Linked DNA regions of Homo sapiens. The protein of the gene in region 1 interacts with the protein of each later gene in a pairwise test. Each region holds a gene or a part of one and is shown in the gene's direction. Other genes may lie near its edges.

What was found.
Region 2: the proteins of NDEL1 (region 1) and CWF19L2 interact in binary tests that used the Homo sapiens proteins (3 or more experiments, as listed by UniProt).
Region 3: the proteins of NDEL1 (region 1) and CLVS2 interact in binary tests that used the Homo sapiens proteins (3 or more experiments, as listed by UniProt).
Region 4: the proteins of NDEL1 (region 1) and USP2 interact in binary tests that used the Homo sapiens proteins (3 or more experiments, as listed by UniProt).

Annotation. Positions count from the first base shown.
Region 1 is NC_000017.11:8,430,894-8,438,905, forward strand, and holds the start of NDEL1 (nuclear distribution protein nudE-like 1), read left to right. Parts: upstream 1-4,990; 5' UTR 4,991-5,152; intron 5,153-8,012. UniProt on the Homo sapiens protein: Required for organization of the cellular microtubule array and microtubule anchoring at the centrosome. May regulate microtubule organization at least in part by targeting the microtubule severing protein KATNA1 to the centrosome.
Region 2 is NC_000011.10:107,447,815-107,454,838, reverse strand, and holds part of CWF19L2 (CWF19-like protein 2), read left to right. Parts: intron 1-266; coding exon 267-389; intron 390-7,024.
Region 3 is NC_000006.12:122,999,218-123,006,241, forward strand, and holds part of CLVS2 (clavesin-2), read left to right. Parts: intron 1-7,024. UniProt on the Homo sapiens protein: Required for normal morphology of late endosomes and/or lysosomes in neurons. Binds phosphatidylinositol 3,5-bisphosphate (PtdIns(3,5)P2).
Region 4 is NC_000011.10:119,371,691-119,378,714, reverse strand, and holds part of USP2 (ubiquitin carboxyl-terminal hydrolase 2), read left to right. Parts: exon of another isoform or gene 1-2,491; intron 2,492-5,193; 5' UTR 5,194-5,234; coding exon 5,235-6,008; intron 6,009-7,024. UniProt on the Homo sapiens protein: Hydrolase that deubiquitinates polyubiquitinated target proteins such as MDM2, MDM4 and CCND1. Isoform 1 and isoform 4 possess both ubiquitin-specific peptidase and isopeptidase activities.

The DNA of each region.
Region 1 (8,012 bases):
TGGGCCCATCTCCCAGGGAGAAAGCTCAACCACAAGGGGGAAGGAATTACATCAGTTTGGGCCCTTCGGCACCTCTTAGAATCCTGCCAGGCAAAGCCCGTTCATTAAGATAAGGCCAATAGTCCAGTCCTGACAAACACCAGTTTTGGGTCCAGGCCGCGTGGGAGGGGTGGCAGCTTGGAAGATGATGCCAACATTTTCCGAGGGGCCTGGCCTGCCATTAGATGACTCAGTGCGTTTCCCAGCACCTCAGCCAGGAGGCAGGGAGAGAGCCGCAGCCCTTATTAATTTTTTTCCTCTTGGGATAGGACTGTTTTGTCTTGGCACCAGGTCCACAGGAAAGCCTTCATTCATCCCCTCCCTGTCTGTGATCTCATCAGCCAGAGCACAGCTTCACCCAGGGAAGCAGAGCCCCAGAGCCTGAACGAGCTGTACCAGTCCATTGTCCCAGGCCACTGGCCTTGAAGTAAGACCTACTTGAGTTTAAGCCCTAGCTCCTCTGGGTCTCAGTTTACAATATGTACAATGGAAGCAATAATCACAGCCTCACAGGCTCATTGTGAGGACTGAGGGAGGGAAAGCATGTAAAGCACTTAGCACAGTGCTCTAGCCCAATACATGGTAGTAATTGCTAATACTCCCCCTTCTTGAGTAGCAATATAATAGTTGTTAATAGTGTGTTTTCTGGAGAGTTAGACAATTCGAACAGGGTGGGTTTGAGGCTTGAGGCCTCATCTTTCTAGTTGAGAGACTTTGGGAAACTTCATCTTGCTGAGTCTGTTTCCTCATTTAAAAAATGGGAATAACACTACCTATCTCATGGGATTACTGTGAGGATGAAATTAAGCAGACCAAGTGTTTAGCACAGTTGCCAGTGCATACAAGAGAACTTCGGAAAGTTCATAGAAAAATGGAATTAAAAGATAAAATTAAAAGATATAAACTTTATTTCTCAACGTAAGCTCCCTCAAGGTCAAGACACCTTTTTTTTTTTTTTTGAAACAGGCTTGCTCTGTCACCCAGTGGCATGATCTTGGCTCACTGCAACTTCCACCTCCCAGGTTCAAGCGGTTCTCAAGCTTCACCCACCTGAGTAGCTGGGATTACAGGCACATGCCATCACATTCAGCTAATTTTTCTATATTTTTAGTAGAGACGGGGTTTCACCATGTTGGCCAGGCTAGTCTTGGACTCCTGGCCTCAAGTGATCTACCCGCCCCAGGTCTCCCAAAGTGCTGAGATTACAGGTGTGAGCCACTGTGCCCAGCCAAGGTCAGGATACTTTCGTAACCATGATATCAGCCATTTATTTAGTACATCCCTAAAGAATTGAGGATCTGGGGATTTTAAGCATGTTAATGCAGTCTTTTTTACATTATTAACTGAAGAAAAATGGCTACCCTTTAAAGAGATATATATATATATTTATATATAAATATATATATTATATATAAATATAAATATAAATATATATATATTTAATGGCAGGCCAATATATATATATTTTTTGAGACAGAGTCTCGCTCTGTTGCCCAGGCTGGAGTGTAGTGGCGCGATCTCGGCTCACTGCAAGCTCCGCCTCCCGGGTTCATGCCATTCTCCTGCCTCAGCCTCCCAAGTAGCTGGGACTACAGGCGTCCACCACTACACCCAGCTAATTTTTTGGATTTTTAGTAGAGACGGGTTTTCACCGTGTTAGCCAGGATGGTCTCGATCTCCTGACCTCGTGATCCGCCTGCCTCGGCTTCCCAAAGTGCTGGGATTACAGGCATGAGCCACTGCGCCTGGCCTAAAGATTTTTTAAGATTAGGAAACAAAAAGTCTTCAGAGGGAGCCAAATTGGGACTGTAAGGTGATGTCTACTGATTTTCCACTGAAACTCTTGCAAAATTGCCCTTGTTTGATGAGAGAAATGAGCAGGAACTTTATCATGGTGGAAAGGTCTCTCTGATGAAGGTTTCCTGGGCATTTTTCCACTAAAGCTTTGGCTAATCTTCTCAAAACACTCTCGTAATAAGTACGTTATTATTCTTTAGCCCTCCAGAAAGCAAAATGCCTAGAACAACCCACAAAATGGTTGCCATGATTTTTGCTCTTGACTGGTTCACTTTGCTTTGACTGGACTACTTCCATCTCTTGGTAGCCACCGCTTTGTCTTCAGGATTGTACTGGTAAAGCGAAGTTTCATTCTTGGTTACAATTCTTCAAAAAAAAAAAAAGCTTCAGGATCTTGATCCCACTTGTTTAAAATGTGTGAAATTTTGAAAGCTCTGTTCTTGTCAGCAGCTGACCTGGGCACAATGGTTTTGCCACCCATTGGGTGGAAAGTTAGCTCAACTTTAATTTTTCAGTAAGGATTGTGTAGGCCAAATCTGTTGAGATATCTGTGGTGCTGGCTATTGTTTCTGCTGTTAATCATTGATCCTTTTCAATTAGCACATGAACAAGATTACTTTTTTTCCTCACAAATTGATGTGGAGGGTCTGCTGCTGTGGGCTTCATCTTCAACATCATCATGTTTCTTCTTAAAATGAATTATCCATTTGTAAACTGCTGACTTCTTTTGGGGCTTTGTCCTTTTACACTTTTATAAAGCGTCAATGATTCCACCATTTTTCCACCCAGGCTTCACCATAAATTTAGTATTTTGTATTGCTTCAATTTTGTAGAATATGTGTTCTGATAGGGACTCTCTTCAAACTGATTTCTTATCTTTCTTGGTGCTTCAAGCTAGATCCTGTTCAGACATGTTATAGCAAGTTAGAACAAATTTATTTTGGTGCAAACATTTATTTTATTTTTTTAGAGACAGGTGTCTCACTGTGCTGCCCAGGCTGGTCTCGAACTTCTGGGCTCAAGTGATCTGTCTACCTCAGCTTCCCAGAGTGCTGGGATTACAGGTATGGGCCACCATGCTTGGCCCTGTGCAAAAAAAAAATTGGAAATCCATGCATAGTTTTTTCATAATATGCATATTATTCATAATATTATTCATAATAGGCATATGTAATATGTTACCTTTCCCACAAACCCCATTAATCCCTTCTCTGATCTTTATTGATTTGGGTACCTCTTACAATCCATCTTGCATTGTTCCTGTTTATGTCCATCGCCCTCAAAAATATAAACTGGGCCTCCTAGGCTCACTTTGTTTTCACCTTGAGGCATGTCTTACACATTATTTTTGTGTTCACACCCACAAATCCAATCCTAAAAGCACTGAAATTGGAAAGGATTACATTGCGTGCCGCATGGAGGCTGGTGCCTGTAATCCCAGGACTTTGTGGGGGGCTGAGGTGGGAAGATTGCCTGAAGTCAGGAGTTCTTTTTTGTTTTGTTTTGTTTGTTTTTAGACGGAGTCTCACTCTGTCGCCCAGGTTAGAGTGCAGTGGTGCTCACTGCAACCTCCGCCTCCCGGGTTCGAGCGATTCTCCTGCCTCAGCCTCCGGAGTAGCTAGGATTACAGGTGCCCACCATCATGCCTGGCTAATTTTTGTACTTTTAGTAGAGACAGGGTTTCACCATGTTGGCCAGGCTGGTCTCGAAGTCCTGGCCTCAGGTGATTTGCCCGCCTCGGCTTCCCAAAGTGCTGCAGCGCCTGGCCGAAGTCAGGAGTTCTTGACCAGCCTGGGCAACACAGTAGACCCCATCTCCTAAAGGAAAGGATTACCTTGTACATTATACAGCAAAAGTTCTTAAAATTGTTTTTAAAATGTATCTCTTCCTTTAAGTTTCCACTCCCTATGTAAGTTGCCTATCCCTCTTTCCCTCCTTTTTGGGCTAGTATCGTCTCCAGCTTGCTTCCAAGTCCGCTAGGGAATACACACGCGCGCACACACACATACACGTGTGTGTTTACGTACTAAAAATATATAAACATTAATAATGCAAGATGGGGCCGGGCGCTGTGTCTCACGCCTGTAATCCCAGCACTTTGGGAGGCCGAGGCGGGCGGATCACGAGGTCAGGAGTTCGAGACCAGCCTGGCCAACATGGTGAAACCCCGTCTCTACTAAAAATACAAAAATTAGTCGGGCGTGGTGGCAGGCGCCTGTAATCCCAGCTACTAGGGAGGCTGAGGCAGGAGAATTGCTTAAACCTGGGAGGCGGAGGTTGCAGTGAGCCGAGATCGCGCCACTGCACTCCAGCCTGGGCAACAAGAGCGAAACTCCGTCTCAAAAACAAACAAACAAACAAACAAACAAAAACCAAGATGGATTGTAAGAGGTATATATATACACATAGGACTCCATTTCTTGGGGGACCTGGAGGGGAGAAAGTCACACCCATACACACACGTACACGCATGTATACAAAAATGAATATATGCTCAGATATATACAATATATAAATGGGCAAATATAAAATCCCCTTTGTGCCAACGAATCCATTCATTCATTCATCAAATATTTGAGCGTCCACTTTGCCTAGAACCAAGTTATCTGTTGGGATGAGCAAGGCATAAGAGGTTCTAGCTCTCATAGAACTTAGAATTCTACTGGAGGAAGATGAGAACAAATACAAAATGTAAACAGTGGAAGTTCTGTAAAAACAACACAGAGCTTTGTGAGAGTGATGCTTAGAATGCTCCTGATGTTCCATTGGGTGTTCGAGCAGGGGGAATGGACTCGGAGGTGAACTATGAGCCGAGATTCATTTTATAAACGGGAACACAGACACATGGACACTTGAAGGGCCTTGGTGGCCAGAAAACTGAAGGCAGGTTCCCATCCGTCTTGGCACCACTCTCCCGAATAGCAGTTTCAGGGAACTGCACAAGCCAAAACCAGCCGGTCGCAGAGTCCAGGAGCGCCTGCGCAAGAGGACGCCTGCGCAAGAGGACGCCGTCAGCTTGGCGTCAGCGCGCCGGGCTCTGGCCCGCCCCCTGTGACACCAGCCCCGCCCCACCCCGCCCCGCATACCCGTGCGCTGCCGCGCATGCTCCGAGCCCCGCCCCCGTGCGTCACAGAATGGCCTCGGACACCCAGGCAGTCCCTGACGTGTCGGGGAGGAGCCGGGCGCGGAGGTACGCTGAGTGGAGCTCGGGGCTGCGTAGGGGAGCTGAGCCGAGCGGCTGGGCGGGCCTGGCCGGGCCGGCGGAGGGGAGACGTCGGTTGAGCGGCGGCGAACATGCGCTTTTGACACATTGGAGGTGAGCCTGCAGCGCGGGGCCGCTCCCTAAGGGGCTGCGCTGGGCCGGCGGCGCCGAGGCCTGCCCTTGGGGAGCCTTCCCGGCCCGGGGCCGTGTCTGAGGCTCCGCCGGGGCGGGCCGGGCCGGGTTCCGGGGCGGCCAGCCTGGGGGCAACTGTTCCAACCGCTCTAACTGTCCCCTCCCTTCCCTGGTCCGATGTGTGGCCCCCCAGGGGCGCCTGCAAGGGAACGATTCCGGTGGCCTCCGGAAGATGTGCCCCGTTCCGGGTAGGGTGAGGGCTGGCGGTGACGGAGGCCGGGACGTGGCACCGTGGGCTGGGGCGCTGGCGGCGCAAGGAGTGGCCCAGTCGGAGGTGGCAGCGGCGCGCCCAGCCCGCCTCCTCCTACCCCCTCTTCGAAATTCCTTCATTTGCGAGGGTGGCTTGGAGCGGGGTTGCATTTTGATCTCTCAGTGCCTCTCTCCCATGGGGGGCGAGAGCGCGAGCAGCCCACGTTGGGCTCGGATTGGCATTCTCCTGACTCCCGCCCGGAACTGCTAATCATCCTCCCCCTGGAGTTCGGCAAAGTGTCACCAACGGGCTCGGGTTACTTGTGCTCGACTCTTTTCTTGCTGTAAGCCATGAGATGACCCTTTAAGTTTTGCAAAGGAGGTGAGAGTTCTGTCACCACTGATTATTACCTTCTATTTACGTAGCACCTTTACACGTTTCAGAGCACTCTTCTTCCTATCTTTTTCTAACCGCATCACCTTGTGGTTGCAACTGATTATGTTATCGCCATTTCGATGGGTAAATGGAGCTGGGATGGGGGTAATTATTTATACTTAGGTTCAACCAACTGGTGAGTGGTTTAGCTTGGATCATAATTTACATTTCTAGGCTCGGAGTTCTGGTTTCTTTTCGTGGGATTTTTATACCCTTCTCAGCTACAAAACAAGGCAGAAAATGTGACTTGCCAAAGATATGCCAGAAGCTGGTAGATTACTTACTCAATTATTTTTGAGAAAACTCACCTAGGATAAAAACGGCTGCTCAGTCATGAGAAAAATCTTCCTGTGAAGCTTGTTCAGGAGTTGCTGGTTAATTGCTTTGCTAAATCGTGAAGTTGATGGGCACAGTGCAGCGTTAAGTCATGGGCTGAAGAGAAGTAAAGGGAAACCAAGTGAAGTATTTCTTCTGAATTATTATTAAAATTATTGTTATTTAAAATTAGAGTGCGTGAGAAACAAAACCTTTGGCCAGCCCTGGTTAGAGGTTGACTTGATCCAGATAGAAGTTGCTAAATCTTCTGAAGCTGTAGTTCTTTTGATTTTTTTAAATTAAATAAATTGAAGTTGGATAAAGAGCTTAAAATAAGTAGGAACCTTAGTAAAACTTAGATCTTGCTTTCATGACATCTGCAAAACAACTTATTTTTGTTTTCATTTTAAACCATGCTGGGATAAATTTGGTTACTAAAGCTTAAAATTACTTCTGACGTAAGTTTCTGAGCACTCCATAAAGTAAAAAAGAAGTCTGATAGAATCAAAGAGAGACCGTGTTTATGATCAACTTTGAAGAGTTAAAAATTCTGTAAATGTCACCTTTGAGAGTAGTAGAATTTCAGTAAAAAGGCATATATTGCCAACAGTGAGTTCTGAAAGAACTCTTCTAACGTCAGTCCATTTTAGAACTGTTAACCAGAAACAATATCATTGAAAATAGATTTTCTTACCATTGTACAAAGAATAATTTCCTTGTAAATAAAAGGCATTTTGGACAGGCTGTTTTAAACTCAAATGAGTTGATTGTTGCTAGATTTCTGAAGGTCATACACAGTATGATAATGCTTTACGTAAAAATTGTCATGCTTTTGAGACTGTGTCCGTATTGAGATCTGGTATTAAAGAAAGATGGGGTGGGGGCGGGCAGAGAATAATAATTTTTTTTTTCTTTGATGGAGTCTCCCTCTGTTGCCCAGGCTGGAGTGCAGTGGCACAATCTCGGCTCACTGCAACCTCCACCTCCTGGATTCAAGCGATTCTCCTGCCTCAGCCTCCTGAGTAGCTGGGATTACAGGTGCGCACCACGATGCCCTGCTAATTTTTGTATATTTAGTAGAGACAGGGTTTCACCATGTTGGTCAGGCTGGTCTCGAACTCCTCACCTCGTGATCCGCCTGCCTCAGCCTCACAAAGTGCTGGGATTACAGGCGTGAGCCACCGTGCCCTGCCAATAATACATAATTATCTATCTTCATTCTAGCTTCAGAAAATTGTGGATGTACCATTAGAGCATTGTTTTAGCAGTATGTTTTCTATATTAGCTAACTTTCTATAGCCTGAATATCTCCAGTTACATAGTTTGAAATAAGTGAACACATCCTCCCAGTGTAACTTGAAGCAAACTGAACAGACTGTATAACAGCCCCTGAAACTGTCGTTTGAGTATCTGCAGTGGTAGCAAATTTTATTATTTGTAAATAATCTGATTTTTATTTTTATTTTTTTGGAGGCAGGGTCTCATTTTGTCACCCAGGCTGGAGTGCAGTGGAGTGATTACAGCTTACTGCAGCCTCAACTTCCTGGACTCAAGCGATCCTCCCACCACAGTCTCACGAGTAGCTGGGACCACAGGTGCATGCCACCACACCCAGCTCATTTTTGTATTTTTGTTAGAGATGGGGTTTCAGCATGTTGTCCAGGCTGGCCTTGAAGTTCCAGGCTCAACTGACATTCCCACCTCAGCCTTCCAAGTGCTGGGATTAATATGCGCGAGCCACTGTGCCTGGCCAGAATCTGATTTTTAAAAAGAGTAAATCTGATGGGTAAAAGTAGGGCAATAGAGCTGGATAATACCAGTTAGGAAGCAATAAAGATGAGG
Region 2 (7,024 bases), on another chromosome or scaffold:
CACATTAATCTACAAATAAAGCCAAAATTTTCCCAGTATTTTTCTGGTAAGAAGTCTCAGTTATATGATTTATTGATAGTGCATATATTATAGAAGGTGTGTTAAGATTTCCTGAAAGATTTTATTTATTTAGACATATTCTTGGTCTTATTTCATCAGAGATTGAAAGTTTTTTAGAATGTGGTTTATTTTTTTTCTCTCAGAATACATCCTTTTAAATTAAGATGAAATTAAATTATTTTCTTGCCTGTTCAAAATGATTGTAGGAACACTCTGTGAAGAAAAAGAAGAAAAAAGACAAGCATTCAAAAAAAGCAAAGAAAGAAAAGAAAAAAAAGAGCAAGAAACAGAAATATGAAAAAAACAATGAGTCATCTGATAGCTCATCAGTAAGTATGTACTAAAATTAATCAAAGCAGCTATTTGAGAACATTTTATTTGAATGTGTAACTTATGGGAAGTTAAAATACAAGAAAACGTAAAAAATATATTACTAGTTATGATATGAAAATATCTGGGATACATCTACTTAGAGATGTCCAGAAAATATTGGAAATGTTGATCTTGAATTTCAGAGAAAGGCTAAGAGGATAGGGATATGATTTGGGAATTATTGCTAAGCACAGCACTGGATCTTGCCCAAGGCCTGCTGTAACAATTACCTGGCTACAGCTGGTGTTCACTCAAGGCCCTGGGGCTCTGCAATCAGCAGGTGATGAAGCCAGCCAGGCCTGCGTCTTTCCCTTCAGGGTGGCAAGTTCCCCCAGGCCTGAGGGTGGGTCCAGAGGTGCCATCAGGGACCCAGGTACTGGCGTCAAAAACCTTAGACTTGTACCTGGTGTTCTATTGAACTGTGGCTGAGCTGGCATTCAACCTATGAATGGCAGTCCTTCCCACTCTTCCCTTTTCACAGGCAGAGGGGCCTCACCCTGTAGCCACCACCATAGACCCACAGGTAGTACTGGCAGGCTACCACTGATGTTCCCTTAAGGCCCAAGAACTCTTCAGTCAGCTGCCCGGCCTGGGACTCACCCTTCAGGGCAGTGGGCACCCCCTGGGCCAGGGCAGATCCAGAAATGCTATCCAAGAGCCAAGGCGTGGGGCTGGAGACCCCAAGATCCCTCTTGGTGTTCTACCACCCTGTGGCTGAGCTGGTACCTAAGGCGCAAGACAGAGCCCCCTTTACTTTTCTCAAGCAGAAGGAGGCTCTCCCCATAGCCACCACAGCTGGGAATGTGCTGAGTCTCACCTGAATCCAGCAAGTCTCAGATACACAGTGAAGGCCACAGTGTAGTACCCGATTATTGGTGCTGGTTATTCAGGGCCTAAGGGCTCTTTAGTGGTTACCAGCTATGGCTGAGCTGGTATTCAAGATGCAAGATGGAGTCCTGTATTTACTCTTCTCTCTCCTCTCCTCAAGCAGAAGGACAGGGTCTCTTTTGGAGCTGCACATTGTGCAGCCTTGGGTTGGGGGAGAGGTGGTGTAAGCACTCCCTTAGCTGCACCAGTTGCCCCCCAACCACCTGTCCATTGGCTCTGAGGCAAGTTTAGCACTAGGAGTCACCAAGGAATTCCACATCCTTGCTAGTACTTGGTATTGTCAGTCTTAGTAATTTTTAGCTATTCTACTGTGTAATGTCTCGTGTGATATTTCTCTGAAGAACAAGGATGTAGAGCATCATTTTAAGTCCCCATAGGGCATTCCATGTCTTTGTGAAATCTGATTTATTAAATATTTTCTTTTTTGTTTTTCATCATTTTTTCTTAGTGCTTCTGGTATCCTAATTTTTGCGCACCTCAAGATTGTGATTTCTCCTATGTTTATGTTATTATTAAATTTTTTTGTTTTTTGTTTGTTTTTAGAGATGGAGCCTCACTATGTTGCACAGACTGGAGTGCAGTGGCACCATCATGGCTCATTGCAGCCTCAAACTCCTGGGCTCAAGCAATCCTGCTGCCTTAGCAGCCCAATTAGCTATGACTACAGATGTAGTACAGAAAAGTTGTTTTTGTAGACATGGAGTCTTACTATATTGTCGAGGCTGGTCTCGAACTCCTGGGCTCTAGTGATCTCCTGCCTCAGCCTTCCAAAGTGCTGGGATTACGGGTGTGAGCCACCATGCTTGGCCTCCTATTTTTTTTCCCTAGAAGTTTTATAGCTTTGGCTTTTTTGCTTATTTATAATCCATTAATAATTTTTATTTATGTTGTGTAGTGTCAGTTTATTTTTTTCCCACGTGGATTTCCAGTTTTTCTAGCATCATTTGTTGAAAAGGCTGAATTTTCCCTATTGGAAGGAATTTAGGGAGATAGATATGTTAAAATATTCTTTCAATCCATTATGCACTTGGTACATCTCTCTATCCATTTATGTCTTTGATTTTTCTCACAATGTTCTGAAATTTTTAGTGTAGAGATCTTACATGTCGTTTGTTATTTTTTTTCCATTTTGTTTTCTGGAAGTGCTATCGTGAGTGGAATTTTAAATTAAATGTGTTTACAGCTAGTATGTAATTATAGAAGTGACTTGAAACATTAGGATCAGAAAAAAAAGAAAAAAGTGAAAAAAAACCTGCTTTTGATATATTCACCTTGCCTCTTATCACCATGTTAAAATTACTAATACTAGTGTTAGTAGCTTTTTTAGTAGATTTCTTAGGATTTCTAGGTAAATGGTATGTCATGTGTGAAAAAGACTTTTACTTTTTTCTTTTCAGTCTCTGTGCCTGTTTTATTTGTTAATTGTTGTTGCCTTATTTCAGTAGCTAGGACTTAAAAATAGTGTTGAATGGAAGTGGTGAGAGTGGACATGATTGCCTTTTTCCTTATCTTAGGTGCAAAGCATTCAGGTTTTTACATTTAAGCATGATGTCTGCTGTGGGACTTTCATGTATGCCTTTTCAGATTAAGGAAATGACATTTTATTTCTAGTTTTCTGAGAGTTTGTATCTTGAATGAGTATTGAATTTGGTAAGTGCTTTTTTTGCATCTATAAGTGTTAAAATTTGCCAGTGAAACGGTTTGGTCCTGGAGTTTCTTTGTGGAATGGGTTTAACGACAGAGTTAATTCCTTTAATAGTTGTGTTAAATACTTTCTGTTTATTCTTGAGTTAGTTTTAGTAATTTCGGTTTTTCTGGGAATTTATTCCATAGAAATTGTCAAATTTATTGTCATAAAGTTATTTGTAATATTTCCTTTGTTCTTTTAATGTTTACGGAATCCATAGTGATACCCCTCTTTCATCCCTGATTTTGGTAATTTCTATTTTCTGTTTGTTTCCTCTGTCAGTCTGTCTTGAGGCTTATCAGTTTTATTAATCTTTCTTTATTGCCTTTTAGTTTCCTTGAATTTTCTCTGGTTGTGTGTTTTCTATTTCATTGATTTAAACTATATTTATTCTTTGCGAATACTTTGTGTTTAATTTGCTCTTCTTTTTCTAACTTTCTAAGATGAATGTATCGCCACTGATTTGAAATCTTTTCTAACGTGTATTTATTTTATAAAATTTTCTCATAGCACTGTTGTATCTCTACGTAACTTTGATGTTATATTTTCATTGCTGTCCCATTCAAAATATTTTTTACTTTACTTTTTCTTACTCATGGATATATAAGAGTTTTTAAACTTGCAGATATTTGTGGATTTTTCTAGTTTTTTTTTGGGTTATTGACTTTGATTTTAATTATTATGTTATACTCTGTATAATTTCAGTTTTTAAAAAGTTTTTGAGACATTTTATTTTCTAGCCTATGATCTATTTTGGTGAAAATTCCATATGTATTTGAAATGAGTATGTATTCTGCCATTGTTAGGTATAGTGTTTTATAAATGTCAATTAGGGAAAGTTGACTAATAGTATTAAGTTTAGTGTTAATGATTTTCTGTTCACCTGTTCAGTCAGTTACTGAGAAAATAGTATTGAAATCTCTTAATTGTTTTGTGGATTTTACCTATTTCTGCTTTCAGTTTTGTCAGTTTTTGCCTTATGTAATTTTGAAGCTTTATTAGGTACATAGACAGCTCCTTGATGAACTGACTGTTGTTACGAAGTTTTCGTTTTTATCTTTGGTAATACTCTTGTCTGAAGTCTCTTGTATCTCATATTAATAAAGCCTCTTCAGTTTTCTTTTTTTGTGTGTTTTCATCGTCTTTTTAAAATTCTTTTAGTTTTAATGTACCTTTTTTATATATTGAAAGTGTATTTCTTGTAAGCAGTGTATAATTGGGTCTTGCTTTTTTATCTCGCCTATCAATTTCTTCTTTTTTATTTTATTGATTGATTGATTTATTGATTGATTGACAGAGTCTTGCTTTGTTGCCCAGGCTAGAGTGTAGTAGATCACTGCAGCTTCAACCCCTGGGGCTCAAGTGACTCTCCCACCTCAGCCTCTTGAAAGCTGGGACTACGGGTGTGCACTTCGACGTCCAGGATATATATATATGAGTTTTTAAATTTCCAGATATTTGTGGATTTTATTAGGTTTTTTTGGTTATTGACTTTGGATTTAATTATTATTTTATTGTACTCTGTATAATTTCAGTTGTTAAAAAGTTTTTGAGACATTTTATATTCTAGCCTATGATCTATATATATTTTGTAGAGATGTGGTTTTGCCATGTTGCCCAGCCTGGTCTCAAAGTCTTGACCTTAAGCAATCCTCCCACCTGGGACTCCCAAAGTGCTGGAATTACAAATGTGAGCCACTGCATCTGGCCTCTTCCTTTTTTTTTTTTTTCTTGAGATGGAGTCTCACACTGTCACCCAGGCTGGAGTGCAGTGCCGCAATCTTGGCTCACGTCTCTTACTTTTCAATTAGATGTTTTTTGTGCTCTCTAATCTGTTAGCTGTTTATGGCTTTTAAATTTTTTGTTAAAATTCATTAAAATTATATCAGCCAAATTTATGTGGCTACTATATTCGACAGTATATAGAAAAATTCTTTGAATAGTACTGGTTTGGATTATTTATGTTTAATGTAATAATTGATATGGATGAGTTTAAGTCTACCATGTTGTTATTCCTTTTCTATTTTTTCTTTGTTCTTTTTTCCTTTGTTCCTTCCTTTTCCTGTCTTTTGGATCGAGTGTTTTTTAGCATCCCATTTCATCTGCTGTAGGCTTATTAGGTATACCTTATTTATTTTTAATGACTGCTTTAAGTCTTATGCATATTTTAACTTACCATACTCTCAAATAATATATAATTTTACTTTTATAATTAGACTTTCACCAAAATATACTTCCATTTTCTCCTACCATATTTTTTGCTATTGTTGTCATATATTTTACTTCTACATATGTTATAAACCCACATTGTTTATAATTTTTAATGTCATACATTCTTTTTATTTATACTTTAGTCAGTTATCTTTTAAATAAGTTACACATATGAAGAAAGTCTTTTATATTTACCCACAGATTTATCATCTCTGATATTCTTTATTATTTTATGTAGGTCTGAATTTCTGTCTAATACCATTTTCCTTTTGTCTGTAGAACTTTCATTAACATGTATTATAATATGGATTTGCAGACATTGTATTCTCTCAGCTTTTGTTTGAAAATTTCTTTTATTTCATCTTCATTCTTTTTTTCTTTTACCACAAACTCAGAAGTTCCTACTAGCAATCTTCATTTTTCAGATACTTGGCTAGATAAAGAATTTTAAGTTTATAGTGTTTTCTTTTTTTTTTTTTTTTTGCACTGTAAAATGTCATCCCATTGTCTTCTGGTTTGCATTGTACATATTGAGAACTCTGTAGTCATTGTAATATTTTTTCTCTGTATGTAGTGTGCCTTTTTATTCTGGATGCTTTTAGGGCTTTTTTTTTCATCATTATTTTTCAGTGAATCAATTGTGATATGTCTTGGTATTGATTTCTTTGTGTTTATTCTACTGTCTTAGTTCATTTGGGCTGCTATACCAAAACTAACTGGGTGGATTATAAATGACAGAAACTTATTTCTCACAGTTTGGGAGGCTAGAAAGTCTAAGATCGAGGCGCTGGTAGACTTTGTGTCTGATGAGGGTTCAGTTCCTCAGAGATGGCTGTCTTCTCACTCTAACCTCATATGGCAGAAGGGAGTGCTCTTGGGCTATGTTTTATAAGGGCACTAATCCCATTCCCAGTCATCTCCCAAAGGCCTCAGCCCCTATTATCATTGTCTTGGGAGTCAGGATCTCAACATAAGAATTTGGTGGGGGACACAAACATTCAGAGTGTAGCATCTGCCTTAGGTTCATTGTGCTGCTTTGATTTGTGAGTTTACAGTTTCCATCAAATATGAAACTTTCAGGCTTTTTTCGAAGTATTTTTTTTTTCTGTTCCCTCTCATTTTGGTAGTCTCCTTAAAATAATGTCTCACAGGTTGATGAGCCTGTGTTCACTTACTTTCTAGCCTTTTTCCTTTCTATGCCTTGGGTTGGGTATATTTTATTGCTATGTCGTGAGCTTCAGGTTTACTGGCCTTTTTTTTTTTTTTTTTTTTTTTTTGTGACGGAGTCTCGCTCTGTTGCCAGGCGGGAGTGCAGTGGCGTGATCTCAGCTCACTGCAACCTCCGCCTCCTGGGTTGAAGTGATTCTCGTCCCTCAGCCTCCTGAGTAGTTGGGATTACAGGTGCTCATCACCACGTCCAGCTAATTGTTTGTATTTTTAGTGGAGATGGGGTTTCACCATGTTGGCCAGGATGGTCTGGATCTCCTGACCTCGTGATCTGCCTGCCTCAGCCTCCCAAAGTGCTGGGATTACAGGTGTGAGCCACTGCGCCTGGCCGACTGGCCTTTTCTTTTGCTGTGTCTAGCTTACTGTTATCCCTATCCAGTGACATTTTCATTTCAGGTACTGTATTTTTTTTTTATCATTAGATGTTTCGTTTGGATCTTTCTAATGTTTTTCAGTTTATCTCCTCATTATCTTTACATTTTCCCTTCCTTGAACATATTTATGATAGCTGTGTTAAAGTCTTGGTTTGCTGTTTCATTTTCTCTTGTTTTTTCCTGTTCTGTTTCAATTAAATGATTT
Region 3 (7,024 bases), on another chromosome or scaffold:
GGAGCCATCGTACAAGACATTTACAGTTACCAAGAGGGCTTATGGATCATAGAGATTTCCAGATAGGCTTCCGAGTCTTGGTATCTTAGAATGTAAATTAATATTTTTAATTATTTTTTCTCTCATTTTATTGTGATTTTTTTCCCTGTAATTCTAGGTTGACAATCACTCCAATTTTTTTAGGCAAATAGAAAGACAAACTACTACCTGAAGATTCATAATGCTAAGAAACTCATACAGAGTTAGCCATTCAGAGGGAATGGAGTTTTGTTACTTACTTTGGCCAGTTATAGAGATGTTATTCCACTTTTTATCAGGTAGCTGAAAATTTTAAAGAATTACAACTTTTTATTCATTGACCACAATTTTTGTTTAAAAATGTTTTCTTTTCATCCTAAAAGTACATTGTAGGATCATGCAAATCAATGACTGTGTATAACAGAACTGAAAAATTTTATTCAAGGAAAAAACTAATATTCTGTATGTCAGATTGGAACTTTGTTAATTGAGCTATAGTGAAATGGAACCTGGAAATTTTATATTTATATAAATCTCGAAGTCTGTTAGAGATACCATTATGGGGGCAGATTGCATTCAGAGAGGCATACATATATATCAGACCTATTTTCATGAATTTCTATAAGTGAACTAATATTCATAATTATTTGTAAACCTAATTAAGATGAAAGTCACTTATAGTTTTCATATATATGAGAAAGTGATAATTCTGAATTTATTAGAGACACTGTGTTTTAGTTGTCTATCTCATGCTTCCATATAAAGGGCAGACAACTAGTAATCAAATTCTCTTTCCCTAGAAATCTATAATGGAAACGGAGTTAATAATTGGTATATAGAATTACATTTCATTAAACTTACACATAATCTTAAATACTAAAATGTGTATTAGAACAAAATGAGAAGCTGTGTTCTGTAGAAATTTCCTGTCAAGATGTCTAGACTTGTAATTATGAATTCTATTTCTATGGTTGGAAATAAACAGGTATAATCAAGAAATTATCGCACCTCAAGGTGAAAAGGTATACAAGTGATTTAGAGCTTAGTCAAAATTTCAGTTGAATTTCTTCCTATATTAAAAAAATAATAATTCCCTCTTCTTTCCCACCTTCCTTTTATCCTAAATCTACATAACCCAATGACAGGGACTAGTAGACAAACAGATCTGTCACCTTTGCACCCTCTATAAACCTTTATCACTGGAGCATGTGCATAAAAACGTCCTTGGCTCCTGCTCTGAAACTCAAAGGACAGCTGCCTTTCTGCCAATGCCAGGATGTTACCAACACTTCTTAGCCTGAGTCCCTTTCCTCTACCCCGAAGGCTCCTTGACTCCTACAGAAGTCTGCCTCTTTCCCTAGGTGTTTAAGTTACTATTATTGCTCTGTTAGGTGGATAATGCCATGTGCTAGTTTCTCTTATCCCTCATCCCTCCCCTGTTCTGTGAGTGAGATGTTCTCACCTTCCAGGCCCTGATCCCACCAATCCAAAGCTACCTGGATTTCTCCAGAAGACTGCATGTCTGAAAATAATCCTGGCAACATTCTTTGAGTTGTTAAGTGAAGCACCTGGCTTTCAACAACTTTCTTAAAAAGTAGCCTGTTTTAAAGAAACAGTGTGTGAGAAGTGTAGATGATTACATAGATAAATTCTAGAAATGAGGCGGAAGAAAATGCCTCAGTTTATTTGGAAAACAGGTTATTTATAATTTTCCAACTACAAAAGGAAAAACAAGATTTTATGAATTTTGAAACAATTCGTAAAGACCCCCAATAGAATTGATCTAACAAAAAGACTGTCATGTTATTATATTTAGTACGGCACTTGAACTAGAGTAGATGCTCAATAAATATTTGAGTTGAATTGAGTTATGCATTTGTATAAAAAGAATTCTGAGTAGAGATTTATTTGATATACGCTTTCTCCTATATGAAATTTGTAGGACAGTTTTCTGTGCTCTTCAGGACACTGAAAACAGTAAAACCGTGTGAGACAGTGACTATAAATAAAATAGTGTCTGTTTCTGCTGCAATTTAGTGTAGTTTACTTTTAGGTTATTGTAAAGAATTGGATGATTTCCAAAGCCTTTTTGAGAGACATGGCATCATTAAGAAGACTAACATAAAATCCTAATATTTACAGTGTACCCACCTTCTAACAAATCTAAAAAAAAATGGAAATACTCAAATGTCAAAATGAGTTGCAGTGTGGCCTGTGGTTCTTCCAAAAAACAATAGGGCAAGCCCAGATGACCTGTTACATTTATTGAGCTGTACCTTGGAAAAGATTCATATAATTTTATCTCCTTTTAGATTGCCTTACATAATTTCTGACAACAAAAGTAAATGCCATGGAATTAAAAACTATTTGACTGTTACACTGCATCACAAAGATGCCTTCGTCCTCCATGTATTGCATATTGTTTTCCTTCCTAAATGGTAGTGACCTGCTTAGGACTCAGCAAATACCTTCAAATGGTTCGCAGGATCTTATCAACAGGTGTGAGGATAATGTGCCGTAAAGCTAGCAGAGGTTAACACTGCTGGAGAAAAGGAAGCTTGGAAAGAAAGTACATGGCATTCTAGGTCCTAGAGCATGCAAGCATGTATCTAGGAAGTTGAAATCCACTGTCACATAATTGTTGGAGATATTCATGAGTGAAATTGTGTCACCTGAAACATAATGATGATAGGAAGTGTCAGAGTTCACCTGTAAGTTGTCAGCCTGCAAGTCATATTTTATTTCTCTAGATCTCATTAGAAGTATGTACTTCACTATACTTTAGTACAGCAAACAACCATTTATCTGGAATATGGTTAATAGTCATTAGAAACAGTAATTCTCAGTAATTCTCTGAACTTTAGTATAGCAAACAACCATTTATCTGGAATCTAGTTAATGGCCATTCGAAAACAAACACAGTTAGAACCAAAATGATTCTTAATATGGTGGCAATCCAGAAAGCACTGGCCACCTTGCATGGTCTTTGGCTTATCATAGTGGACATTGATTACCACTTACAGTAGCGAAGCTCTGGAAGGGGCAGAAAACTGATTGGTCAGACATTGATATGATACTCTAACTTATCCTGGAATTTGCCCAAAAAACTTGTCAGTTTGCTCCTATTGTGTGGCTTTTTCATTCAAAAGCAAACATTGTATGAATGGTTGCTATTTGTGGTTCAGTTTGAATTATGATTATGCTTGCATTTACTAAAATAATATGGCCAATGTTCAGAATAGAAGGTTATGGTGATGATAACTTACAATTTAAAACATAGCCATAGACTACACAGATGGGCATTAATGCCAATCACAAAGCTTTACTCATCTCTGGAATTGTACTAAAAATAATAAAATAAAATAAAATAAAATAAAATAAAATGAACAGGAATAGATTAAAACAGTCCAGGGCAATTATCCAGATAATTATGGAGAAATATTTTTACTCTGCAACAAAAAAAGCAAAAAAATAAGAAGTTTAATTTTTCAGCTTAATTTTTCAAGAATTCTTTTCTCAGTTTATTAACATATTAAATAATTCCCAGCTTTTTGCTTCACATTGTCATACCTACTGGCAGAGTCTGGAGTCTAGGAGTCCTTTTCGTAAAAATTCTGGAGGCATGGCTTTGCCATCTTTTGGGTGGATACTGGTTAGGGCAAAACCACAAATGGCAGATATGTATTCCATGGGACTTCTCTCCCAGCAGAGCTTCCATCTTGCTTCCTTTCAGGGAAACTCTTTTAACAAATCCTCTGCTAACTGCAACTTATTCCAAACTATAATCTTGGTACATATCATGGCAAATAGGGGAGGAAAAAAAGTTGTCCTGAGAAATGTTGGAGGAATATGGTGATGAATCTCTGCAAAAATAGGACAATCTCCAAAAACTGGGGCAATTATGCAATAATTAGTAAAATAATCCCGAAATAACAGCAAAAACTACAAGTGCCAACCTTCAGTAGGACGTTGACTAAGGCTGGCCTGAGCCAAGCTATTTTCATGTTTCAAAATCAACTTTAAAGAAGGTCGAGAAGCAAAGGACTTGAGGTTACTACGGTGTCCTGAAAGGATGCCTCAAAAGAAATGTTTAAAGATATTTTAAAACATGAGCCAATAGTTAGTATATTAAGAAGTTATCCTTAGTAAATTAATACATCTCCTCCTTTCTGTGGGAAATGTTAAATTCTCTTACTTTACTGAGGGCAGGTACATCTATTTCACTATTATAGTAAGTGGCTATTACACTATTATCGTAACATGAAGGAAAGGATACTCCTGTATGTGGGATCGTTATGATACCATATGACAAACTGAGTGATTAATATTTTGGTCAAATTAATTGAAAAAAATACACTTTGAGAATTTGTTATGTACATAGCATTTTAGTAGGTACTGGGGGCAAATAAAGACACATACTTTGTACTTTTAAGCAATATGTAACCTCTCTGGGAAGAAAAAACATGTAAAGCTGAGTAACTATCAGAGGTCATATGCAGCTAATGAGGACACTGTTTACCAGTGCTAGAAGCTGGGGACAGGTGGGCAGCTGTGGGCTACTCAGTGTTGTGTAGGAAAGACATTGCCTGCTTGGTTAACTGAATTCAACATTTATTGTTCCATTTTATTCATTATTCATTTCAAAATAATTCTACTGTGTGTATTGTAGCAATTAAGTACTTCACTCATGATCATACAACTGGTAAGTGAATTAGTCGCTTTTTGTGTGTGTGTGTGTAGACAGTTACCAACCTAAATCTAGGGAAAGGCAAATGTATAAAAAAAATCAAATTCTGATAATTAAAGATAATTCCATCTATGGTTTAGAAAATCTCGATTAAATATAACAAAACAGGCAATTAGGAACAGAACGTTAAGATGGAAGAATAAACTTTCTGAAGTCAAAGACTTTAGTTAACTAGATGTTTGCTTAGAGTACTTGGCCCTGATAAAAATAATTGCTTTCTGATGTGTTTGTATTCTCCCAGCACAATTCTGTTTTATTTTGTTTTATTTTTTGGTGGCAATAGATGCAAAAGTTTTTTCTTTACCCGTCTTCTTCAGAGAAAGACATTTTGCCCGCAGATGTTTCATTTCCAACGATTCTCTTGTTCTCACTCACCTACATTCCCACAGCAGTAAAATTAAAGCAAGGCTCAGACATCTAATCTTCTGTGCTCAGTAATACAAGCCAGACAGATGAAATTTCAAGAGTTCATATTTATTCCAGGGATTGTAGATTTAGCCATTTCTTATTCTGAGTCCTAAGGATGTCTTATTGCTTTTCCTCCACCAAAGCTCCCTATTGTGGTGAGGCTGGAGAGTGCCAGGATATTGACTTCCTGATCTCCTATTTTCTGACATATATATTATGCTACCATGAAAAAGCAGACCAGGCCAGGCACGGTGGCTCACGCCTGTAATGCCAGCACTTTGGGAGGCCAAGGCGTGTAGATCACCTGAGGTCAGGAGTTGGATACCAGCCTGGCCAACATGGTGAAACCCCGTCTCTACTAAAATTACAAAAATTAGCCAGGCCTGGTGGCGGGCGCCTGTAATCCCAGCTACTTGGGAGGCCGAGGCAAGAGAATCACTTGAACCCAGGAGGTGGAGGTTTCAGTCAGCTGAGATCGTGCCATTGCACTCCAGCCTGGGCGACAAGAGCAAAACTCCATCTCCAAAACAAAAACAAAAACAAAAACAAAAACAAAAAACAAAAAAAAAAAAAACCAATTATCTATTCATCAAACTCTGTTCTGAGTAGGAGGCACCATGGAGAGGGAAAGAGCACTGGTCTATGTGGTATCAGAAAGATTTGGCTTTGAATCTAGGTTCCCCTTTTTTCCTAAGGTGATTTAAAGCAAACTGTTTAATTTTCTCTGAGACCCTCTGTCCTCATCTGTAAAATAATAAGAACAAATCCAGCTCAGAGATTTTGCAATTGTTTTGAGATTAAGATAATGCATTTGAAATTGCTTTGGAAATCTTAAACTATTACCCAGATAGACATATTATTATTATTACCACTCAGTAATATAAAACACCTAGAAGGCTTCATCAGCTTTACCACTAATAATACCCTGAGGCATTAATAAAGGTAATTTTTCTCCTTTTTTCCCCTCCCCCTAGCACCTTCTACTATGAAGTGCTTCAGACATTAGAAAATGTGGCTTAATGAAAACTGAGGGGTGGGGGAAGCCTAAATAAAGAATTTAATAATGGCTGATTGATTTAGTGACAAAGAGAAATTGCTGGTGTTATGCTGCTCAGTGCGATGCCAAGATGCTAGTTTTTTCTTGTCATGCTGAAAAGGTTGAAAAGTAGAGGGATATGACCTATTTGTCATTAAGTTGATCTTTGCACTGACTGAAAGCTATGGTAGAGGAGGAGATGCTGAGAACCCCAGCAAAGAAGCATGGGTCAGGTAGTCACCAAAAAAATTGCATGGCCAGAGGCAGGAGAAGAAGCTTCTCTGATCTAAAAAATTGAGGGGGCTCCTGATTGCAGGCAGGGTGCCACCCCTCCACAGTGTGGCAGGACAAGGCTCTTGTCCTCTTTCTGGTCCAGGAGCATGTTTTGTATTGGGCTGACAGGGAAGCCTTAAGTGAATGTTATATTTAAATGATGCCATTATGGCACTTTGATGACTGTAAATGTAGATATAGGTAAAATAAAGCAGCATGGTCTATGCCCTTGGGAAATAGTTTGATTTTAACATATATTATTGTGCACCCACAGTGTGCAGCGAACAGTATTTGGTGCTGAAGATAGAAAGTGGTATCAAACAGTGAAAGAGTTTTTAAGCTAAGCTTATATGTCTGGGGCCATAGAACAAACACTGAAGCACTATAATTTCAGAATATGAGAGAGAGGGCGCTGAGGTCTCCAGCAGGTCAAGACAATCTTGCAGAGCAGGGAAAGCTGGTGGCGGGCCCAGAGGAGGGCAGAACTTAGGTGAGGTGAAAAGGAAGGGGAATGTTCCCCTAGATTTAAGTGAACATAAAGC
Region 4 (7,024 bases), on another chromosome or scaffold:
GCCTTGTCTTGGAAGTGTATAGATGCCCACCCACTCACAACCCCAAATCAAGGAGCACCCTATAGAAACTGCCCTGGGCCCATCCACTTCTTCTCCACCAGTCAGGATTCTTGCCTTAATCTCCAGTCTCTTTATCTTACCTCCTCCCCTCCCCCAGCTCTTGGGTAACTACTGGGAGCACAAGAAAGAGAAATGGACCCAAATTCCCTTGGATGACCCCCTGCCAGGGGAGGCAAGAGGATTAGGCTGGTGGATCAGCGGGTGCTAGCCCCTGATAGACAAAGCCTAGTGACAGGCTGGAGGGGAGGAGGCCAGCCCAGGCCCTGGGGCCTGAGAGGAGTAGGCGGAGTTCAAGGACTGTTTGAGCATAAATATGCCCCCGCCCCCCCATCCCCTACTCTACCCATGTCCTCTACACCTGCCAGGATTCCCTCATCCCATCCTCCAGGACCAGACACTTGTGCCCAGATAGTGCAGCAGGTGACCCAAGCAGCTGGGAGGCAGGGTCAGAGTGCAGATGGAAGGATACAGGGCCCCCTCTCACCCACCTTGTCCTTCAAGGTCAGCACATTCTGATGCTGTTAGCAAGTGGCTTTAGGAAGCTCTGAGGTCACCACTGTGGGGGCTCCCAACCACCTGGCGGGACTGGCTGGGACTCCCCACTCACCTTTTCCGGGCACCTGAGTAGGAGGGAAGAGACTTAACCCTGTTTAGGCGTGCTTCTGAAACTCAGCTAGAGGCTCTCTATCCAGGCCCCAGTAGCAAAGCAGGCTTTCACCCCAGAAAGCCAAGCAGATCTGGGCAGAGAGAAGCCATGAAGGTTACTGGGATGTGGGGCATCACCCATCCCCTGCCCCCAGGGCCAGGAGCGCCTGGAATTCCTGGGGAGCAAGTCCCTCCCCTGGCTGGGCAGGTTAGGGAGCCCTTCATGTGAGCAACAGGAAATGACAGTGGCTGAAGCAAAGGGGTTGGCTGCCCCACGGGGACAGGGTTCATTTTAACCCCTGACTCACCCAGCATGGGTACCTTGAGGAGTGGGCCAAGCTGCAGCCAGGGTAGGAGGCTAGGGACTTGCTCATAACCAGGCCAGGGACCCAAGGCCCCGAGCTGGGGTAGATGCTGGTGCCAGGGGACATGCAGGGGCTTGGCACAGTGGGTGAAATGGAGGCTTCCTGGACCATCTCTCGGCCTATCAGTATTGTTCTGGGGCTCGAGTTGCACCTGGCTTCACTTTCATTCACCTGCAGTGGAAAATCCAGAGGGCTGCTCCTGCCAGAGTCTGTACACCGCATGCTGTTACTGGATGACGGACACCTGGATCCTGTGGTGGTCCTTCCCTCAAACCCCACCCACAGGTCCCAGTCCTGACCCGTCCCATGGAGAGCCAGGGAAGAGTGAAGCAGGGGTCTGGGCTTCAGGCCAGATATAGCAGACAGAGCACGAGTCCAGCCCAGCTCTGCCACTGCTCCCAGTGTGACTTTGGGAAATCCACATCACTCCCAGCATCGCCAACTTCCTCATCTGCAAATGGACGTGATAACAGCACCTACCGCTTAAAGGAGCAGGGAGGATTCAGTGAGTTAATGCACTGTGTCCCAAGCCTTAGTGCAGTTTTAAGCTTTAATAACTTCAGAAATATGAATGCTAAAAACTTCATTTGAAAGTTTCCATATTTAAATTTCTTGTATATTTATTTTTTAATTGTGAAAATGTTTTTAAATTTTAATTTAAATAATTTAATCTGTCCAAAGAGGTGTGTAAGTTGGAGACATTTATGTCTGAAAGAATCCCAGCTTAAACCTGCACTAAGACTTTTTGGGGTGCTCTGTGTATGAAGCACATCTAGAAGAATGCGTCACATGGCAAGGGCCGATGAGAGCTGATGTGAGACTGCAGAGAAGATGGACTCAGAAGCTGCATGTGAAGTACTCAACATGCCTGGGGCCTGGTTCAGAGGTGATCAGCACCAGCCAGCTGGGGTGACAGCTGCTTGGCTCAGATGCCCTGACAGGAAGCCCAGTGCCTCTGTGCAGAGGAACTCTGCTGCACCTCCCAGGAGAGGGAAACTGAGCAAAGCAACAGGAATCTCTGACAGAGAAGGAAGGGTCAGGACACCTCAGTGAAGATGGCCAGGAGGAGGAGCTGGGCAGGGGACTGCCCCCATTGTCCAAGGTGGCGGACACCTGGAGAGGCGCTGCCTGGAGCTGCATGCCTGTACTTGCCAGCTCTGGGTAAACAGTGAAAGGAGCTGGGCAGCAGGGGCCCCCCGCACTGGGCAGGGAGGGGTATGGGGGATCCCAGCCAATTGGCTTGCCTCCCACTGCCCCATGAAAGGGCCATTCAGTTCAGGCTGTTCCTGTGGCAACAGGGAGACTCGCAGCCACGTGAGTGCCCGTCCTGTCCCTGTCTTGCGCAGCGAGACTCCGGCCAGGGCCCCAGCCCGCTCTCCTGCCCATAGTGCATTCTGTGGCCTCCAGGGACAGCTGTGCAGGTAATGCCAAGGGGCACCAACCCAGGCTGTGCTTTCACCTGGAAGGTGCTAGGACCTTTGAGAGTGAAACTGGGGGTTGCGGGAGGGGAGAGACATGTGGAAGGCCCCGGCCCCAGTAGGAACCCTCTCCGCAGGCATGGGAACTGTAGCTAGAAGTCAGAGCCGAGAGGCAGCTTCCATGGAGTATTAGTGATGGCATGACTCCCAGGGCTGCTAGGAGGAGGCGGAGGGGTCTGGCAATCACCTGCCAGATGGGAGGGAGAGTGGGGATTTGGGAGCCCTCCTGGGAATCTGTGGGCCAGAGATGTGGCCCCACCTCCGGCTCCAAAGCCTTTCAGAGCTGTCTGTCCCTGTCCTCTGGACCTCGTTTGGCCCCAGCACTTCTGCGTCATCAGCAGGGTCAAGGGATGTCACGGGCTTGGGGCGCTGCCCGAAGAATACCAATTCCCTGAGAGCCTTACTGTGGGGGAGGGAGAGGGAGAGCTGTGGGGAGGAGCCATGAGCTCATACCCTTGTTGGGGGGATTGTATCTGATTGGCTGCCTGGTGTCCCAGAGCCCAGCTCCTGAGACCTGGAGTCTCTTTGACTTTGCATTATTGATGGAGTTCTCCAAAGCAAAATAGGGCAGGACTGGGCCCCCACCCCGACCCTGTGCCTCTGTCTGTCTCTCCCGCTATGGTTTCCCTCTAACGCTGTGTGACATCATCCCCCAGTTACCTTTTCCTAGAAAGGGGTGAAAGTTGTGCTGGGCACAGTGGGCAAAGGAGTGTACATGAAGGGCCAGGGGCCCCCTGGGCCAGGTGGCAAAAGGCTAGACAGTAAGATGGACCAGGCCTTTCTGATGTCAGCCTGGACTGAAAACTGCTGGAGTTCTCAGGCAGGGTCAAGGAATGCTGTTCCGGGCCTATATGGAAGCCACCTGCTCATCTCTCACCCCTGTACCTACCCCAAAGCCTTGTGTGGACTGGGATTCTAGAGCTTTCTGCCAAGCCCTCGCATTTGGGGTTTGGCACCAGCTCCTCTCTGCCCTAATGGGCTGGGTTGCCAAGCCAGTGTCTGCTGAGTGGCCAGATGTCTGCCCACTGCCTGTTTCTCTCGCTGGGGGCTGCAGGGGGAGGCCTGGCATCCCAAGCTGAGGCCAGAGGCTGGCCAGGCTGGGAGACAGCCAGCCCTGATATTATCACAGACCTTCAGAGGGCGGAGCCATGCTGCCTCGCAGTAGCTGGGGGAGGAGATGGTAGCCACTGTCATTGTGGAGCCCTTCACGTGTTGTTATCTCATTTATTCCTCACAACAGCCCTGTGAGGTAGGAATTATGAGGATGATGGTTTTACTCATTTACAGATGAGGAAGTTGGGGCTCAGAGAGGTTACGTGACTAGTGCAAAATCACCCAGCTAGTCCATCACAGGGCAAGTCCCACAACTCTGAGAGTCCTGGATGGCTCTGCTCCATCCCCCTAGAAAGCCCCCCAAGAGCCCCTGATGCCCTCGGGGAAAGGCGTCTGACCCTACTTGCTCCTCTGCCACTCCAGCTCCATTGGATACAGGCTGCACGTTTACGGTGATGGAAGGCCTCTGGGGGTCCCCAACTGACCCTAAATCTGATGCGGGGGAGGTAACTCCAGGTTAAGTAGAAAGAACACTGGCCAGGATTTTAAAGACCTGGATTCCAGTCCTGGCTCTGCTGGTGTGTGGCCGGGGGCAAATAAGCATCACTTTTCCCATCTGTATAACAGATAGATTAAAATTCATGATCCTCTGGGGCTCTCAAAGCTCCACATTCAGCAGTGTCTGTGTTCCTTCACTAGACCCTCCCCAGCTGCAGGACTGGAGCAGGGAAGGACTGGGAATGCCACCTGCAGTGCAAGATTTGGGACTGTAGGGGGCCCCCTTTGCACAAGCATCGCCAGGACCAATTTGAGATCTGTGTTTGTAGAGGAAGCCTGTGTTGGTAGAGGAACTCTTAGGAGGCCACAGGGCCCTAACTCCACTTAGAACAGAAGCTTAGCTCAGTGAAGTGAGTGTCCCTCACTGTGGGACCATGCAGCAGGTGCTGGTGTCTGGGGAAAGGGTCTGGAGACCACGTTCTGGCCCCTCATTGTTGCATGCTCACTCACGGCCTCCCCTGCCCACCCACACCCCATTACTTCCTCCCCTGAGCCTCCTTGGCCTCACAGGGGATCTGACCAAATGATCTTCAGGTCATTCCAGCACAGACAGTCTAGGATTCCAAAAAGACACCTGCTCATCACATAAGTCAGAAGGGACAGATGTGGTCTTAACTCCTGAAATATCCAGCATTCTCAACCCAGGGGTCAGTGGCATTCCCCCAGCTCAAGAGTTTCTGCAGATGCTGAGGCAATGGGATTTGACCTGGAAGACTGCACGGCTTGGTGGGCTGTGGAGGTCAGATAGCCCCTGCTTGCGTGTTTGAGTCTTTGAATGGCCAGGATGCGCTGACTTCCTGTGTGGCATATAAAAGCCACCTCATCCCTCGCACTCTCACCGAGGTGTGAACACACAGGTGCAAGCAAGCTCCTGTGCACACCTGCGTGCATGTGTGCTTCTCAGCAGCCAGCCTGCCTCTTGTGGAAATGGACTGGGAGCTCTGAGGTTCTGGCCCAGCTGAGGATGGGGAGCAGGTCTGTGGGAGCCCGACACCTGGCAGGGCCCTCTGACAACTACACTCCTTGTCTTTCAGCCCATGAGGCTCCCAGTCCCCACTGAGTGCCACCCTGAAGGATGTCCCAGCTCTCCTCCACCCTGAAGCGCTACACAGAATCGGCCCGCTACACAGATGCCCACTATGCCAAGTCGGGCTATGGTGCCTACACCCCGTCCTCCTATGGGGCCAATCTGGCTGCCTCCTTACTGGAGAAGGAGAAACTTGGTTTCAAGCCGGTCCCCACCAGCAGCTTCCTCACCCGTCCCCGTACCTATGGCCCCTCCTCCCTCCTGGACTATGACCGGGGCCGCCCCCTGCTGAGACCCGACATCACTGGGGGTGGTAAGCGGGCAGAGAGCCAGACCCGGGGTACTGAGCGGCCTTTAGGCAGTGGCCTCAGCGGGGGCAGCGGATTCCCTTATGGAGTGACCAACAACTGCCTCAGCTACCTGCCCATCAATGCCTATGACCAGGGGGTGACCCTAACCCAGAAGCTGGACAGCCAATCAGACCTGGCCCGGGATTTCTCCAGCCTCCGGACCTCAGATAGCTACCGGATAGACCCCAGGAACCTGGGCCGCAGCCCCATGCTGGCCCGGACGCGCAAGGAGCTCTGCACCCTGCAGGGGCTCTACCAGACAGCCAGCTGCCCTGAATACCTGGTCGACTACCTGGAGAACTATGGTCGCAAGGGCAGTGCATCTCAGGTGCCCTCCCAGGCCCCTCCCTCACGAGTCCCTGAAATCATCAGCCCAACCTACCGACCCATTGGCCGCTACACGCTGTGGGAGACGGGAAAGGGTCAGGCCCCTGGGCCCAGCCGCTCCAGCTCCCCGGGAAGAGACGGCATGGTGAGTTTACCCTTGGGGACCGGGGATAGGCTGGGGAGGCAGCCACTGATGGAGAACAGCCAGGCTGAGGGCTCGACTCCCAACCTGACTGATGACTGACAGGCTGCTCCTGGTGGAGACAAACAAGAGAAGTCATCCTGGCACATCTGGTGCCCCTGGGGCTCCGTGCCGAGGGGAGGGGCCTTCCCACTCTGCCTAGAAAGCCCACTCAGGGCCCGCGCACTCGAGGATAGTCCAGTAGTGTTCTCAGGAATGCTCTGCTGCGCCCAATGAACCACTCTTCTCACCTTCTCCTTTTCTATGTGACATGCCAGTGTCTCCTGCAGGCCTTGCCCCAACCTGGGCTGGATGCGGGGGGGCCCAGACCACCAGTGCACCCTGTGGCAGGAGGGCCTCCTTGCTGTGGTTGCATCTCCCCTCTTGTGCAGGCTTTATTCCCTAGCCCCAAGGCCTGGCTTTACATTTGGACATAAGACATCAGGGGAAGAGGGACTCTCCTCTGAGTGACACTGGCATACTCAGGACCAGGGTATCAGACAGCAATGCTTATCATCTGGCTTTGGAGAAAGTAGGGGAGAAATTTTTATCTAGGGCTTGAGACAATCCAATACCTCTATTCCAGCCCTGCCTCAGCTGGAATGAGGGAAGAGGCTCTGCTGGAGACTGACCAAGGGCTGGCATGGGCTCGCTCGCCAACTAATGCCCGCACACGCCTCTCTTGGGGCACTGACGACATCTGCCTTTTCTGTAGTTATTAGTGTGCCCATTAGGTGGCAAGCTCTCAGAGGAGGAAAAAGAAATCCTATCTCTAGATCCCCTGCCACGTGCCTCCCACAATGGGGGCTGACCTGCTGATTGCAGGGATGAATGGATGGATGGATGTGTGGGTGGTGGGTGGGTGGATACACGGGTAGATGGCGGGTGGACAGATGGACAGGCAAGCATATGGGCAGAAGGGCTGGATGCTGTGTCTCCTCCATTACCTTATGTACCCCTCCCTACTCCTAGGACAAATA